2 separate regions of the Homo sapiens genome follow, and region 2 is linked to region 1. Evidence: fine-mapped expression QTL. Tissue or cell type: whole blood. Region 1 holds a variant in brackets; the other region holds the start of a gene. All regions are shown on one strand. Distances are from middle to middle.

Region 1 (8,108 bases):
CTTGCTACTCTAGTTTTCTGTATTTTCTGCTTCACAGATGCGCATACAGATTAACTTTCACATTGGAGGCCTCACATCCTCATGTTTGCTACTCAGCAAAGCACTGGCAAGCATTAGATGTGCTGAGATGGGGACTTAATCTTCTCAGGCTCAATTAAAATGTCGAATTAAATTAGGATGGTTACTCACAGCATGCATATGACATAGCACACATCAATGTTTTTGCTTGCAAATTCAGTGAAATTTCCAAGACTTTGAAAGTGAATTACACTTAAAAATTTACACCCATGTCAGGATAGAGCATCATCTGTTTCATTAATGCAGCTCTAAATGAACTGAGGACAAGAAAAGGTAGAACTCCTGAGTTTAGATTAAACAAATTACCTGGGTAATTCAGAGAAAGGTGACTTTCATGTCTCATAGAACATAGATTGAGTCAGATGGACCAGGGATTCAAAACCAGGCTCTGCATTATGACAGGACTCAATCAAGTTGCTAATTTCACTGAGCCTCAGTTTTATCACCACTAAAATGGGGATATTCTTTTTTACGGGGTTGAAAGATTGGAGAAAACACATGAAAAATTATAGGACTATACTGGTCAAGAATAGATGTTCCGTGAATATTTGTTCCCTTCCTCTTCTTCCTTCCCTGCCCCAGTGTGGTCTGCTTTGTTGCAAAGCTTCACTGAAGCTAGGTAACTGTTTCCACACCAAATACTTTCCCCTGGATGGGAGCTATGTCCCCACTCCTTCCTCCTTAAAAATAGATTTTTGTCTTTGAGGAGTATTAAAGAGATAAGAAGTTCTGGGGAATTGAAAGGATTGTTTAAAAACTGAATCAACCTTAAAATGAGACTATATTATATTTCTTTTAAAAACTTTCATGTAAACAATTTAATTTTAGGTTTTATTTATTGCTCCCTGTCTTCATTGAAGCCAGAGGTCACTCTGCGAATGATGAGAAATGTCAGTGAACACAGGCACAGCTAATGAAGAGAATTCCCTCTGGCTCTGGAGCAAAATACCACAGAGACTTAACTCACGGCCCAAAGCTGGATCTGCAAAATTGTGCTGGATTATGCATCTAGACACACAGGCCATGGATATTAATGTATTAGGTAGAAGAGATAGCGATGAGAGAGAGAGAAGGAAGAGGGGAAAGAGGGAGAGAGAAAGAGGAGAGAGAGAGGAGGGAGAAGGGAGAAAGAGAGAGAGGGAAGAGAGAGAGAAAAGTGGAAATACCAGAAGTAGGGGATTTCTATCAGAGAAGTTCCTATGTGAGCATCAGCATTCTCTGTAACTCCTGCTACCTCCACTTTCCCTGCTGACTAGGATATGTCTGACTTCCCCCAAATCGGGCTGTGGGTCTAGTGCAGGTCTGGAGAGTCAGGCCATCTCTAAAACACTGTTGACATTTCAGAGCTAGTCAAGGATTTGAATGTGCTGTGCTGCTTGCCTGGCAATTTGGTGTATTACGGGATTGCAAATTTGTCTCTCAGGACACCAGAAGCCTTCTTGGTTCGGGATTCCACCCTCTCCCCACCGCCCCTGTCCCTGGTGACATGGAGGAATCCATACTCCCCACTTTGCGGTGCTGCTTTCTACCACCTCAGCCCCATGAAGGACTACGAAAACTTCAAAACTGGATGAGAAAAACCAAAGACAAGATTATTTTGTAAGAGACAATAAATATTGTAATCAATCCAGAGAAGGGCACAAATTACTAGAAACGTAATTTCTTACCATTTGTCTTTGTGAGAGAAACAATTTATTATTTCTTGCCTGTGCATTTTTTAGTGTGTTTTTCTAACCCACATTCATATGCACAAAGAGAGAGAACTCAAAGAGATCCCGTGAGCTTTGCTGAGTGCCCAACGTGTGAAGTCATGCCACCAAGTACCTTCACAAATATTATTTTAAATAATTCTCAAAGAAAACTGTGCATTAAGGAAGCCATTGCCTTCAGTATCTCAATATATTCACAAAAGTTTTAAATTAGCATGAAAAGTTAGACAGAATTGAGAGAGAATTTTTTTTATGACCGTTTGTGCTAAGATTATTAGGCTCTTTAAGAAAGCCCAAGTGAATTTTTACCAGCGGTAAAATTCACTCTTTGGCTGTGGACACCAGAGAGTAACACAACACAGGATGATTCAGGATGTGCTTATTGCACAGATAAATGTTGCTGACGTTTCAGGGGCAACATGAGACTCATCTCTGGGTATGCCAGTGTAGCCTTGAATACAGGATCCCGGGCAGCAATAACACAAACCAGGAATAAGAACTCTCAAAATATGGAATTGGAGAAAATTTCTTCCATGTGATTCTTCCTAAAGAATGTGGGAGATCACCTGAGCCTCAGGAGGTCGAGGCTGCAGTGAGCTGCGTTCACGCCCCTGCACTTCAGCTCGGGTGACAGAGTGAGACTTGTCTCAAAAAAATAATAATAGGCCATGCATGGTGGCTCACGCCTTTAATCCCAGGACTTTGGGAGGCCAAGGCAGGCGGATTGCTTGAGCCCAGGAATTCAAGACCAGCCCTGGCAACATGGAGAAACCCCGTCTCTACTAAAAATGGTAAAATTAGCCAGCGTGGTGATGCGCGCCTATAGTCCCAGCTACTCGGGAGGTTGAGGCGGGAGGATCACGTGAGCCTCCTGAGTAGGTAGGACCACAGGCACGCACCACCATGCCCTGTGAATTGCAATTCAGAGGCATTGTGGCTATTGATCCTTTTTGTATCAGTATGTAATTTTAGTCAAATTATTGAACACTTCTGCATTCTTCTCAGGAACAAAATTTGAAAGTTTTTATCACCAGGCCTGACACATAGAAGGCACTCAATGAATGTTGGTTCTCCTTTTCTATCTGCATAATTTCGACTCCCCAGGGCTTCTCTTTTCCTGCTAGCTGATGTTTGTCATGTACTGTGCTCTCCCAAATCAGCTCAGACCCGTATCTTTCCCTCAGAATGACTTTGTGGTGCTGAGTGTCTACTGAAAACAGAACCTTAATGTTGCTCAGAGCTAACTTCCCTAGGGGACAAACTCATGCTCTCCAAAGCAAGGAAGGACCAAATTCCAGTCGAGGCCTGAAAAATGCTTGCCAGTTTCTGTTCAGTGACAGCATAGTTAGTCCTCAGGTTTTGCATCTGTGAAGCATGGATGGAGAAAGAACTGTCTCTTAGAATTTCACACATCTCACAAAAGAGTAAGATGCTCTTGTTACTAAGCTTGTGCTATATCTGCTTTGGGAGGGAATATATTCTTACAAATTAAAAAAACACAAAGCCAATGGCAAGATTCACGATGCCTGCTAGGGACTGGACCTCTGCCCCCTGTCTCTCCGGACCAACAGGTGCCATGGTCCTCTTGATCTCCTGTGCCTGACCATCCCTGCAGTGAAGATGGCCAGGCCAACCCTGACTCCAGGGGCTCTAGGTCTCCATGTGAAGTGGTGACCATGAGCCCTCCGGGTGAGAGCAGTCTGCCTTTCCCCACTCTGAATGAAGAACTGCCCAGGGCTTGCCAGACACACACCTCAAGTTACCATAGGTCTAGAGTTTAATTACAGATTATGTTTATGAAACATGCTGGCTGGGAAGTCCTCTAAAAGGGAAGAAAGTATTTCAGGTCATACCTAAAGCACTTCTCCTAATGGTGGCTGAAATTCAGACCTTGACATTTTGAAGGCCCACTGATCAGCTGTCCTAGCTGGGCCCCCTTGAATTTTTCTCAAACCTGTCTCTTAATACGTTATTTGGTGTTTTCCATGTTTGCTGTTAGTTATCTCATACCTAAAGGGCTATTATCATTATTAATATTTTTATTTTTTGAGCCAGAGTTTCGCTCTTGTTGCCCATGCTGGAGTGCAATGGCGTGATCTTGGCTCACTGCAACCCCTGCCTCCTGGGTTCAAGTGATTCTCCTGCCTCAGCCTCCCAAATAACTGGGATTACAGGGATGCACCACCACACCCAGCTAATTTTGTATTTTCAGTAGAGATGGGGTTTCACCATGTTGGTCAAGCCGGTCTTGAACTCCTGACCTCAGGTGATCTACCCGCCTCGGCCTCCCAAAGTGCTGGGATTGCAGGCGTGAGCCACCACGCCCAGCCCTATTATTATTTTTGACAACAACAGCAAAGATCTGCCCATCCGACTGCAGGAATTTAATACACAGCCTTTGTCAGTGGTAGAAATTCTATCACTGTATGACTCATGAGTACATAACAATGTGCTATACCATACTTCCTCTTTGAGGGATAAAGCCCCTGCACTCTAAGGGAGGATTTCATTATGCATTTCTCTTATATCACCAGAAAATTATTTAGTGGAAGACAGTTTAATATTTGACAGCTTTGAACCATTTTTTTTTCTCTTTCAACCAGTCTTTTTACATTGTCTGCTTAAAAACAGGAAACCACATATCTCCACCCCAGCACAACCCACCATCCACCAGCACAGACCGTATCATTTTGGATCTACAGTCTTTTTCTTCCAAGCCTGGCCAGGTGCCTGCTCCTACTTTGCAGGAAACCCCTCCAGGCACTCCCGGTGCGTGTTCTCAGAGCCCTTCTGAGAATATTCAGGATTGCACTTCCTGGGCTGCAGCGCACCCTGTACCCTCCTTTTTTAAGCCTCCTCCCCTGAGTCACTGCTACCCTTCCCTCCTCTAACTTCCCCTTCTCTGCAGCCTCCTTAGCAATTTCTTATCATAAAGTTTGTTTTAAAGAAGAACTGCCCCTCTAAAAAAATAATAAACTGTCGAGGGCGGTAGCCCCGTCTAGAGGTTTCCGACTTTGCTCTGTGCCCACCTGAAGCCTCCCCAGCCCGAGGTATTTGAACTTACATTCAGTGCTTCACGTC[T/A]CTGTCCGGGGTGCCTCTGTCTCTCAACTCTGACTTCTGAGTACTGGCAGTTAGAACAGGAAGGAAGTCAATGAGAAAAAAAAATGTTTTAGACCTACTTGAAGAGGAAACCCTGGGCTGTCTCAAATCCTGTTCCTTTGCACTGCCTATCTCTTGATCAGCCAACTTGAGCAGCATTCTTGTCAATTAATGGCACATGTGCGAGCATGACAGCCCGTGTGACGTGGAGATGCATGAATGTACACGCAAGAGTGTGGAGCCTATAGCTATGGGTATTATGAATAATTGTGAGGGTATTTCTGATAATCAGGTCATTGCAGTGCATAAGCCTATGGAGGTAAGGAGCCTGAAACCAGTAGCAATAAATTCACATCGGCTTTACTTTGTACCACTCACTTCTGTTCCCACTGGGTCCCCGCCAGCTTCATTATCAACCAGATACGTTGAAAGTTTGCTGGCAGTGAATGTAGAGTGCTAAGAAATGATGATTGTTAACTGCATATACTACGGTCCTAAATTTAAAAATGTGTCCTTAAACAGATTTTTGGAGTTTTGTTGGTTATAATTTCAAGACGTAGCTTTGTATTGCACTACAAACAGTCAAATATTGTTTTTAATAGTTTTGGCTGATTTTTCTTCAAATGAAACAAACAAGCAAGCGAAAGTACTGTCTTTGATGAAACCTAGGAAAGAAATTACAAAAGGAAGTAAAACTTCATTAATTCATAGTCTTCCAACTCAGAATTTGTGACAACTTAACAAGTGCCAAAATAGACTTTGTACCATATTTGAGGAAATGGTTTATGAAGTAATTTAAATGGGAACAAGTCTCGGAGGCCATGTTTAAACCATCTGAGGAACAGTTTTTAAGCAGCCAAGTCACATTCATGCTGTATATTCCCGTAGCTGTTACCAATAATAAATGCTTATTTAGGTTAATATTTCAATATTCAGTATTTACACTACATCAATATATTTAGATCTGACTAAGCACACAAATTTGGAGAAACTGACGTTTATTTTGTTTTCACCTAAATGTACTGCATCTTCTTCATTTCCCTTTGTAAATTGATACCACAGGGTTTGCCTTCTACTTAGAGTCAATGAAATCGGAATAATCAAGGGAGTCATTTCACGTGAGAAGAGATTAGCCTAGAAAAATATGAAAAGGAAAATAGTATATAATTAAAATGAGCAAAAATACTAAAAGCCTAATACCACTTTATTCTATAAATTTTAAAATAGCATAGACAGAATACAGCCCTTGAAACAATGTACATAACTTTATTGTAAAAACAAAGCAAACCCTAATTTACACAGAAGGCAGTAACTTACACATTCTATAGCTCTGCACCCTCAAGAGGGGATACATTTATTCATTCCATAACATTTATCGAGCACCTCTTTTCTTTCAAGTACTGTTCTAGTTCCCTTGTGCAGCAATAGACCGCAGGCGACATCTCTGCTGCCCTGTGGAACTTATGTTGTACCTAGGAGACAATTAAAATAACACAGGCAGAATACATTAATTGTAACAAGAAATATTTAAAAATGAAAAATGGTAAATGCATGGTCTCTATTCCACCACTCATTTCTCATGTTATTAGGGAACACCTCACTAGGCAAACCTGGCTTTTTTTTTCCCTCCAGAGCCCAGTGTATATCGGAGGGTATGGGAGCACCCCTTCCCAGAAAAATCTGTAAAATCAATACATATTTTACAGATTTGTATTATAGATTAATGTATTTATTGGGGGATGAGAGAGCATTCATAATTTTAGAAAGTTCTAAAAGGACTCCAATTATCAAAATATACTTAATTCCTGGTCATATGCAAGGAGCCACGGAAAGGTACAGAAATAAACAAGACACAGTCCTAGACCTCAAGTAGCTAAAAGATGTAATGGGGAAGACAGAAGCAGACAAATTTAATTTTTTTTTTGTCAGCATAGGAAAAGAAAAAATACATGGTGTGTTTTGAGAGTACATGTAAGGACATCAAGGAAGGCTTTTTGGAGGAAGTGACCACTGCGCTCAGTTAAGAGGGAGAGTAGGTTTTGAGTAGTTGATGAGCGAAGGGTTGGGAGTGAAAGAGAAGGCACTCGAGGTAGAGGAGAAACATGAGCAGCAACACGGCCCTGGCCTCCCAAAATGATGTGGGATATGCAGGGTATTATAAGCAAGCAGCTCAAGATTGTTGGAATGTAAAGTGGAAGTTACATGTGAATGAGAAATATACCTAGAGCAGGGCAGGCACAGTGTTCAGATCACCACGGACCTCTTATGCCATGTTAATAACGAACTCGGCCTAGATCCTATCAGTGATGGGGAACTGTTGAAAGTAAAGGATGGACATGATTGTTTTGCATTTCACTTAGTTTACTCTGGCAAACTGATGTGGTTGGATTTGATGTGAATAAAATCTATTAGGAGACTGTTTAGGCTTGAACACTCATAATGAGATAGACAGAAATGGTCAGATTTGAGAAATATTTAGGTGAAATTGGCATGCCCTGGTAATTGGTGGGATGTGAAGGATGAGGATGAGGAGGACTGTGGAATCAGGAATGACTTCTGGATTTTTTTGCTAGAATGATTGGGTCCTTGGGGGTACCCCCAAGTGAGATAGAGAATACAAAAGAAGAAATAGATGTATTAGGAGAAATAAGGACATACGTTTGGACGTGTCTAGTCCTGAGTTTGAAAAAAAATGGTGTCGTTTGTTGGAGATGATTTCTGAAAGATAGTGAAATATATAAGCCTGAATTTACATATCATCAGACTATGGATAGTAATTTAAACCAGGACACCCAAAGTGTGGCCTGTGTACCAGCAGACTACCATCACCCAGGAACTCCTTAGAAATAAATGCAAAGTCTCAGGCCAAACCTCCTACATCAGAATCTCTCCCGGAGGTTGGACCTGGAAATCTATGTTTTAAAAAGCTCTGCAGGTAAACTTTGAGGTTTTAGAAACACTGGTTTAAACTATGTAAGTGGATGGATTCACCCAGAAGGAATGGAGAAAGAGAAGTTGGCCAAGCATGGGGCAATCCTGTTAGCTCCACTTTCGGTGAATAACCTGCTGACAGCTTCTTACCTCCTCCTTGTTTAGCACCCTAGCCTACCATCATTGTGCCTCTGCTGGACTTTCATAGCATTCTCTTTATATGTTTTCTATTTCCATAATAGTCTGATTTAACCTTTATTCTCATAACAGACTAAAAAGCATACTCATAAT
Region 2 (8,108 bases), 21 kb before region 1:
AAAGGGCATTTATTTACTCATTCCTGCATGTAGGTTAGAATAATTTTAGAGCACTGAGATAATAGGCAAAAATAGGAGTTATATAGTTTTTAAAACTAACTCTGGGATTAAAGGAAAAGTATGTAAACAACTAACTATGTAGTGCTACAGATTTATAGGTGCCTTGTGACCTGACCAAGGACAAAGAAGTTCCCAACTTCCTGAGACACTTGCTGGGGCCCAGATGCCTGTGGTTGCCGGTTATCACTTGATCCCAACTCCCTCCTCTTCACCCTGCCCTTAACATACAAAGAACCTAAAATTGGTAGTGGCTTAAGATGTACTTTGTTTATTTATTTTGACACAGAGTCTTGCTCTGTCACCCAGGCTAGAGTGCAGTGGCAAAATTTTGGGTCACTGCAACCTCTGCCTCACGGATACTTGTGCCACAGCCTCCTGAGTAGCTGGGACTACAGGTGTTCACCACCATACTTGGCTAATTTTTTCTGTATTTTTAGTAGAGATGTGGTTTTGCCATGTTGCCCAGGCCAGCCTTGAACTCCTGAGCTCAGGCAATCCACCTCCCTCAGGCTCCCAAAGTGCTAGAATTACAGGTGTGAGTCACTGTGCCCGGCCAAGATGTACTTTAGGATGCTAGTCCGCTGTCTTCTTGGTTTACTGGATCTTCAAATAAACTGGCTTTTCCTCCCACCGGCTCTTCCTCTTGAGTTTTGGCTTTGGTTACATTTGTGGATGAAAGGAAAAAATGCAAAAATATGAAATAGACGCCATCAAAAGGGCCAAAAAAGAAAAAAAGAAGAAAAATAAAACAATTAAAATGAAAGCTTAGAAGTTTTAACAAAAGTTTATGCAGGTTATGGAAGGACAGTCCCTCTCTTGCCACTGTAGATAAACCTGAGCTTTGCACATGAAGATGCTGTTCACGCATTCAACTCTGCAGCCCAGGCCTGCAGGAGGCAGCAGAGAAGCCACTTGCGAACAGTGATTCCAGGCCTTCCATAGACGCTGGCATCATTTTCCCTGCTCTCACGGGACCTTTATCCATAGCAGCTCCAGGAAATTAACAGGAACAAACATGTTCTACCCTGCAAGTCCCCAGGCTGAAGGAGGAGATGTGCAAGGAGAAAAGAAGATGGCCAGTTGATATGGTTTGGCTGTGTCCTTACCTAAAATCTCATCTTTAAATGTAATCCCCATAATCCCCACATGTCAAGGGTGGGACCAGGTGGCAGTAATGGGATCATGGGGGCAGTTTCCCCCATGCTGTTCTCGTGATAGTGCATGAGTCACAAGATCTGATGGTTTTTTAAGCGTCTGGCATTCCCCTGCTTGTGCTCATTCTCTCTCCTGCCATCCTGTGAAGAGGTTCCTTCTGCCATGATTGTAAATTTCCTCAGGCCTTCCAAGCTATGCTGAACTGTGATTCAATTAAAACTCTTTCCTTTATAAATTATCCAGTTTTGGGTATGTCTTTATTGGCAGCATGAGAAGAAACTAACATACCCGTCTTGCATCTGGGGTCAAGCAGAGGGAGCTGGTATCTACTCTTCTAGAGGCCATGAACAATAATTAATTGAGGCCTCCTCTCTTATTCTGCTCCTTCAGATGGAATTGCTGGAGGATAAAATGATGGCATCTGGCGGCTGTTTAAGTTATTGCACACTCCTCCAATTCCATGCTCTTGCCCCTTCCCCATCTTTCTGACGGTGTTTTTGTCTACAGCTCAGATTTCTCATTCCTGAAAAATGTTGTCCCTGTCTTTCTCCCTGACTTGCATCTCATTGCAGTGATTTCCAACTGTGTACGCAGAACTGACAGGGTAATCAGGAGTTGTAACTGAGAAATGGAAACAGACAAGAAGGTCTGCTATGAGAGAGTAGGGGCTTGATCAGCTGTGAGGATTTCCAGATGCTACCACCAGAGAAAGATGAAAATGCTGGAATGAGGCAGTCTCATTTATGGCTGCCTTTCTTAGTCAAGAAGCTAATCTGGAAGATGGAGGTTAACACCTTGAATATACAAAATGCCATCATTTTCCAACATTTCAGACAAGGCAAAGAGAAAGAAGGAGAGTCTACCATATTTGGGGGAAAGGCTTTAAAAGGCTGTGCACTGACTAATGTCCAGGATGTTTGGCATCCTGTAAACAGTGTTGCTGGATGATATAAATTGGGTTCACTCTGGCCCCTGCCTATTCATAGGGTGCTATGAGAGTATAGACCAAATGTGTTTAGGACAATGGTGGGGTTCCATGAAGGCATTCTTTCTGCAGATACTGACTTGAGCTTCAAAGCATCCATAGATGAGGAGATGCAGCCCACAGGCTCAGAACTCTTGAAGTAAGTATGAGAAAGATATAATTTAGAGACTGGGAATGTCTTGAAAATAAGAGGTCCCAATGGACAAGATGAAATCAAACTGGGTGGCTGTCTCCCTTTACCCCCACTTCTAATGCAGTGCCATCTGCCAGCAGCAGGTGGCTGCTGTGGTTCCCTTAAGGTAGAACATTTCTGGCTCTTGGGGGAATTGCAAGTAGGGAACTAACCTGGAAGAAGCCTATGACAGCCACCTCAGTGGCAGCAATGAATTCCATGGCAGCTGGGACATCTGTGAGCCACGTGGGTTCCTGGGCAGCACCAGGACCATCTAGAGAGAGAAGCAGAAGATGTCAGGGTACTGAGGCAAGAAGAAGCAGCTCTAAATAATGAGGGCATCTATACCTTTTATCTCTATACTAAGGGCAAGAAGAGCACAATTTATAGGAGTACTGTTGGCATTCCAAGGCATAATATTTTTACTAACATATGGAAGGTGACCCTACTGATGGTCTGTCTCTGAAGGATACTGCCAGACTTCCCTACTCTCTACCAGGCAAAATGCACTTATCCAGGATTTCCTGGAAAGCTTTCTAGGTGTGGAGGAAAAGTACCCAGAGAACCACCATGCTCCCTTTCCTTCTCCTAATAACACTTTCACACTATAGCCACCCAACTACATTTTTCTTTTACCTGAGGATTTCTCAACTTCTGCAGCAACTTCTGCAGCCAGCTCACACGTGAGGAGAAATAAGAGGAACATGAACCTGGACGGGGCAGCTTCCATTGTCCCTCTCCTGCTCCTGCTCCAACCCTGGACTTTGTGTTGGGGAGGCCGACTCAGGGCAGCCTACTCTGTAGCTGATTGGCTGTGGGGTTGTTAGGGCTTTGGGAACTTTGCAGCTGGCTCCAGGGGAGCCTTCAACTTCTGAGATAAAAGACCAAGGTTAGTAATAGGGACTCAGAACATATCCAACCAGAAGAAAGTCAGGTCAGTTTATTTAAATAAAAAATGTAAATATGCTATGCCAGGCATTGATCCTAGCGCTAAGAATAGAAAGATAATTATGATCTGATCCAGCCTCTGCCAGCTTAGATTATCAGTGGGAGAGATGGGCAAGTAAAAAGATTATTTAAATATAAGATGGAAAGTGATATAGAAAAATTCATAGGGTGCTATGACAATACATATTAAGGGTATTAGGGACAATGCTAGGGTTCAATGAAAGTGTTCTTCCTGCGGAGGATGCCGGAGCAGAGTTCTGGGTAAGTAAGATTTTGCCAGGCAACACAAGGTAGAAAGGGAGTTTCATGTAAAGAACTAAAGCACAGGCCGGGCGTGGTGGCTCATACCTGTAATCCCAGAACTTTGGGAGGCTGAGGCAGGTGGATCACGAGGTCAGGAGATTGAGACCATCCTGGCTAACATGGTGAAACCCCATCTCTACTAAAAATACAAAAAATTAGCCAGGTGTGGTGGCGGGCGCCTGTAGTCCCAGCTACTCGGGAGGCTGAGGCAGGAGGATGGCCTGAACCCGGGAGGCAGAGCTTGCAGTGAGCCGAAATAGCACCACTGCACTCCAGCCTGGGCGACAGAGCGAGACTCCGTCTCAAAAAAAAAAAAAAAAAAAAAAAAGAACCAAAGCACAGATATGCAAATATAATGTGTGACAGAATTACTAGTAATTGAGAATGATGAAAAGGAAGGAAGTGATACATGTGGACAGAAAGGCATGTTGGGACCAGCTCACAGCAGGCTTTATATGATACACTAAGCGCGGGAGCATCAATTTTATTCTGTAGGTGATGGGAACCACTGAAAAGTCTTAAGCAGAAGAATGAGATGAAGTTTGATTTTGCTCACAAGTGTCTGAGGAAGTCCAAGATGAGATTTCCACAGGCATTGGGATATGTAGTTTTAAGCTTAGGAGAATTTTCATGTGAAAATATTACAAAAGAAATTAGGAAGCCCTAGCCAGGGCAATTAGGCAAGAGGAAGACATAAAAGGCATCTAAACAGGAAAAGAAAAAGTCAAACTATTTCTCCTTGTTGACAATATGATTGTATGCCTAGAAAGCTCTGAAGACTCTGCCAAAAGGCTACTGGAACTGATGAATGATTTCAGTAAGGTATCAGGAAAAAAATAAGTGTACAAAAATTAGTGGCATTTCTATACAGCAATAATGTCCAGGCTGAGAGTAAAATCAAGAACACAATTTCATTTACAATAGCTACAAATAAAATGAAATGCCTAGGAATACAGATAACCAAGGAGGTAAAATATCTCTACAAGGAGAAATACAAAACACTTTTGAAAGAAATCAGAGGTGACACAAATGAAAAAACACTCCATGCTCATGGGTAGGAAGAATCAGTATCTTCAAAATGGCCATACTGCCCAAAGAAATTAACAGATTCAGTGCTATTCCTATCTAACTACCAACGTCATTCTTCACAGAATTAGAAAAGAAACTATTCTAAAATTTATATGGAACCAAAAAAGAGTCTGACTAGCTAAAGCAATCCTAATCAAAAAGAACAAAAACAGAGGCGTCACATTACCCAACTTCAAACTATACTACAAGGCTACAGTAACCAAAATAGCATGGTACTGGTACAAAAGCAAACACATAGACCAATGGAACAGAATAGAGAACCCAGAAATAAAGTCATATACCTACAACCATCTGATCTTCGACAAAGTTAACAAAACCAATCAATGGGGAAAGGATTCCCTACTCAATAAATGGTGCTGTGATAGCTGGCTAGCCATATGCAGAAGAATGAAACTGCACCCTCATCTTTCACCATATAAAAAGTTAACTCAAGATGAATTAAAGATTTAAGACCTCAAACCATAAAAGTCCTAGAAGAAAACCTAGGAAATACTCTTTTTGACATTAATCTTGACAAGTAATTTTTGGCTAAGTCCTCAAAAGCAATTGCAACAAAAACAAAAATTGACAAGTGGGACCTAATTAAAGAGGTTCTTCAGAGCAAAAGGAACTATTGATAGACAATCTACAAAATGGGAGAAAGCATATGCAAACTATGCATCCAACAAAGGTCTAATATTCAGAATCCATAAGAAACTTAAACAAATCAAGAAGCAAAAAACAAATAACCCCAATAGAAAATGGGCAAAGAGCATAAACAGATACTTCTGAAAAGAAGACACACAAGAGGCCAATAAGCCTACAAAAAATGCTCAACGTTACTAATTATCAGAGAAATGCAAATCAAAGCCAAAATGAGATACAATCTCACACTAGTCAGAATGGCCATTATTAAAAAATCAAAAAACAACAGACACTGTGAGACTGCAGAGAAAAGGGAATGCTTATACATTATTCATGGGGATGTAGCTTAAGCAGTTACGTAGTTCAGCCACTGTGGAAAGCAACTCTAAGTAATGAGGACATCTATACCTTTTATCTCTACAGTAAGGCCAAGGAGAGTACTCCAATTTTTAGGAGTAACGTTAGCATTCCAAGGCATAATATTTTTACGAACGTATGGAGAGTGACCAGTTTGAAGATTTCTCAAAAAACTTGAAACAGAGCTACCATTTGATTCAGCAACCCCATTACTATGTATATATCCAAAGGAAAGTAGATTGTTGTACCAAACAGACATGCACATGTATGTTCATTGTTGTGCCATTCACAATAGCAAAGACACGGAATTAATGTAGTTGCCCATTAATGGTGGATTGGATAAAATATGTGGTGCATATATACCATGATATACTATATGGTCATAATAAAAAAGTAAAATCATGTCCTTTGCAGCAATATGGATGAAGCTGGAGGCCATAATCCTAAGCAAAGCAATGCAGAAACAGAAAACCAACTTCCATATGTTCTCAGTTATAAGTGGGAGCTAAACACTGAACACACATAGACATGAACATAGAAACAGTAGACACTGTGGACTACCTGAGGGGTAAGGGAGGGAGTGGGGCATTTTTTGAAAAACTATCTATTTAGTACTAGGCTCACTACCTGGATGCAATATACCCATGTAACGAACCTGCACATGTACCCTCTATACCTAATATAAAAGTCGAAATTAAAAATAGCTAACTAAATAAGTAAAATGTAGATTTCCCACTGGCTGTATTCTGAATGTGCATTGCCTATTATAGTGTAATAGGGGACCAATTTGTTCCCAAAGATGTAAATATCTCCTCCAGTGTGTTTTCCTCATCCCCATCCCCTCTGAGGGAACTCATGAATGTGAACCATCCAGTTATCATATTTGTTCAAAGCAAGAAAGCAGGGAAATGAAGGTCTCAGCCAGAACACACACAGTTATTGTTTTATTCTTGTTCTCTTGTGTCGTTTACAGTGTCTCTCACAAAAGAAGAACTCCCTCTGGCAGGGGATGTGACTAGGGACTCATTGGGCCAGCAACAACCACAAAAGAATCTAGGCATTAGAATGAACTACTGGAACCTGAGTCAAAGACCTGTTAGTGATAATTTGCCCATTTTCTGGCCTCTAGTTGCTTGAATAGGGGTAAGACAGGGAAATATTAAATGATTGTGTACTGAGATGGAGACGTGGAAGATCTGGCCCTGATGGAGGATCAGAGGGAGCAGGTTGGGTGAAAGCCCGGTTTTAAGCCTCTTGTTCTAGGGACCACGTTGAGTGACAGGGTGGGAAAAGATGCATCAATAAGGAAATGTGGCAGTGTTGAAGAGGGACCCAGCTGTGGACAGGGAGGAGGGACAGGGTGCTGAACACGCCTGAGAGAATTCTTCCAGGTGGCAAGGGTGGGGAAAGGGGTGGATGCATTCATTCTGTCCACTCCTTCTTAATCGACAGGTTCCACTCCCAGCTGAGGTGGTCTTGCTTGTCATCGTCGGTGAAGAAGGACTTGTTGTGGTACGTGCCTCGCGCCAGCATGCCCTTGGGAGCCTCCTCAACTGGAGTGAGGAACTCATACTCCTCAGGCCGAGGTCCATAGCTGCCAACCATAAATGTTGCTTTATCCACTAAGAAGAAAGAAGAGTTCATTAGGGTAAGAGCCTGATAGAGGAAAAACATACACTGCAAACTGGAGAATCTGGACTACAGCCTACAGTGATTAAAGTCAAGAGCAATGGTTTCCAAGCCTAAATAAACATTAGATTTACCTGAGGCATCTTTTTTTTTTTTTAAGATGGAGTTTTGCTCTTGTTGTCCAGGCTGGAGTGCGGAAGCACAATCTCGGCTCACCACAACCTCCACCTCCCAGGTTCCAGTGATTCTCCTGCCTCAACCTCCCGAGCAGCTGGGATTACAGGCATGCGCCACCATGCTTGGCTAATTTTGTATTTTTAGTAGAGACGGGGTTTCTCCATGTTGGTCAGGCTGGTCTCGAACTACCAACCTCAGGTGATCCACCCGCCTCGGCCTCCCAAAGTACTGGGATTACAGGTGTGAGCCACCGCACCTGGCCCTGAGGCATCTTTTTAAAAAAATTATTCTTTAAAACATTTTTTAAGTTGGAGTGCCTTTTAATAATATAGTTTCCTTTGTCCTACTTCCAAAGGCTATGGTTCAGTAACCTTCTGTGGGTCCCAGGGATCAGTGTTTTTAAAAAACTACAAAGTTGATTCTGAGGTAAAGTTGGGGAACCAGTGGCCTAAATCAATGGGGATTAAGCCTGTTTTTTTTTTTTTTGTTGTTGTTGTTGTTTTTTTTATGGAGATATAGCAGATTACACCATTTTAAAAAACTCAGACAAATTGAGACCTCAGTTCTGATCTCAGTCCTGCAATGGCCTAAGTCATATAACATTTTTGA

Evidence for each region. PIP is the estimated chance that this variant, and not a neighbour inherited with it, causes the effect.
Region 2: ERP27 starts here. The variant in region 1 is fine-mapped to the expression of ERP27 in whole blood (TOPMed, PIP 0.95).

Annotation. Positions count from the first base shown.
Region 1 is chr12:14,956,686-14,964,793 of GRCh38, forward strand. ARHGDIB (Rho GDP dissociation inhibitor beta) reads right to left here and starts at 4,916. Exons shown (of 6, transcript NM_001175.7): 1 at 4,852-4,916. RefSeq lists enhancers at 3,259-3,368, 4,619-4,738. The variant T/A (reference allele first, on the strand shown) is at 4,869.
Region 2 is chr12:14,935,407-14,943,514 of GRCh38, forward strand. ERP27 (endoplasmic reticulum protein 27) reads right to left here and starts at 3,131. Exons shown (of 7, transcript NM_152321.4): 1 at 3,009-3,131; 2 at 2,546-2,646. The coding sequence starts at 3,102. It overlaps ARHGDIB (Rho GDP dissociation inhibitor beta), which reads right to left. Exons shown (of 6, transcript NM_001175.7): 6 at 6,625-7,315. The coding sequence ends at 7,116. RefSeq lists an enhancer at 2,587-2,646.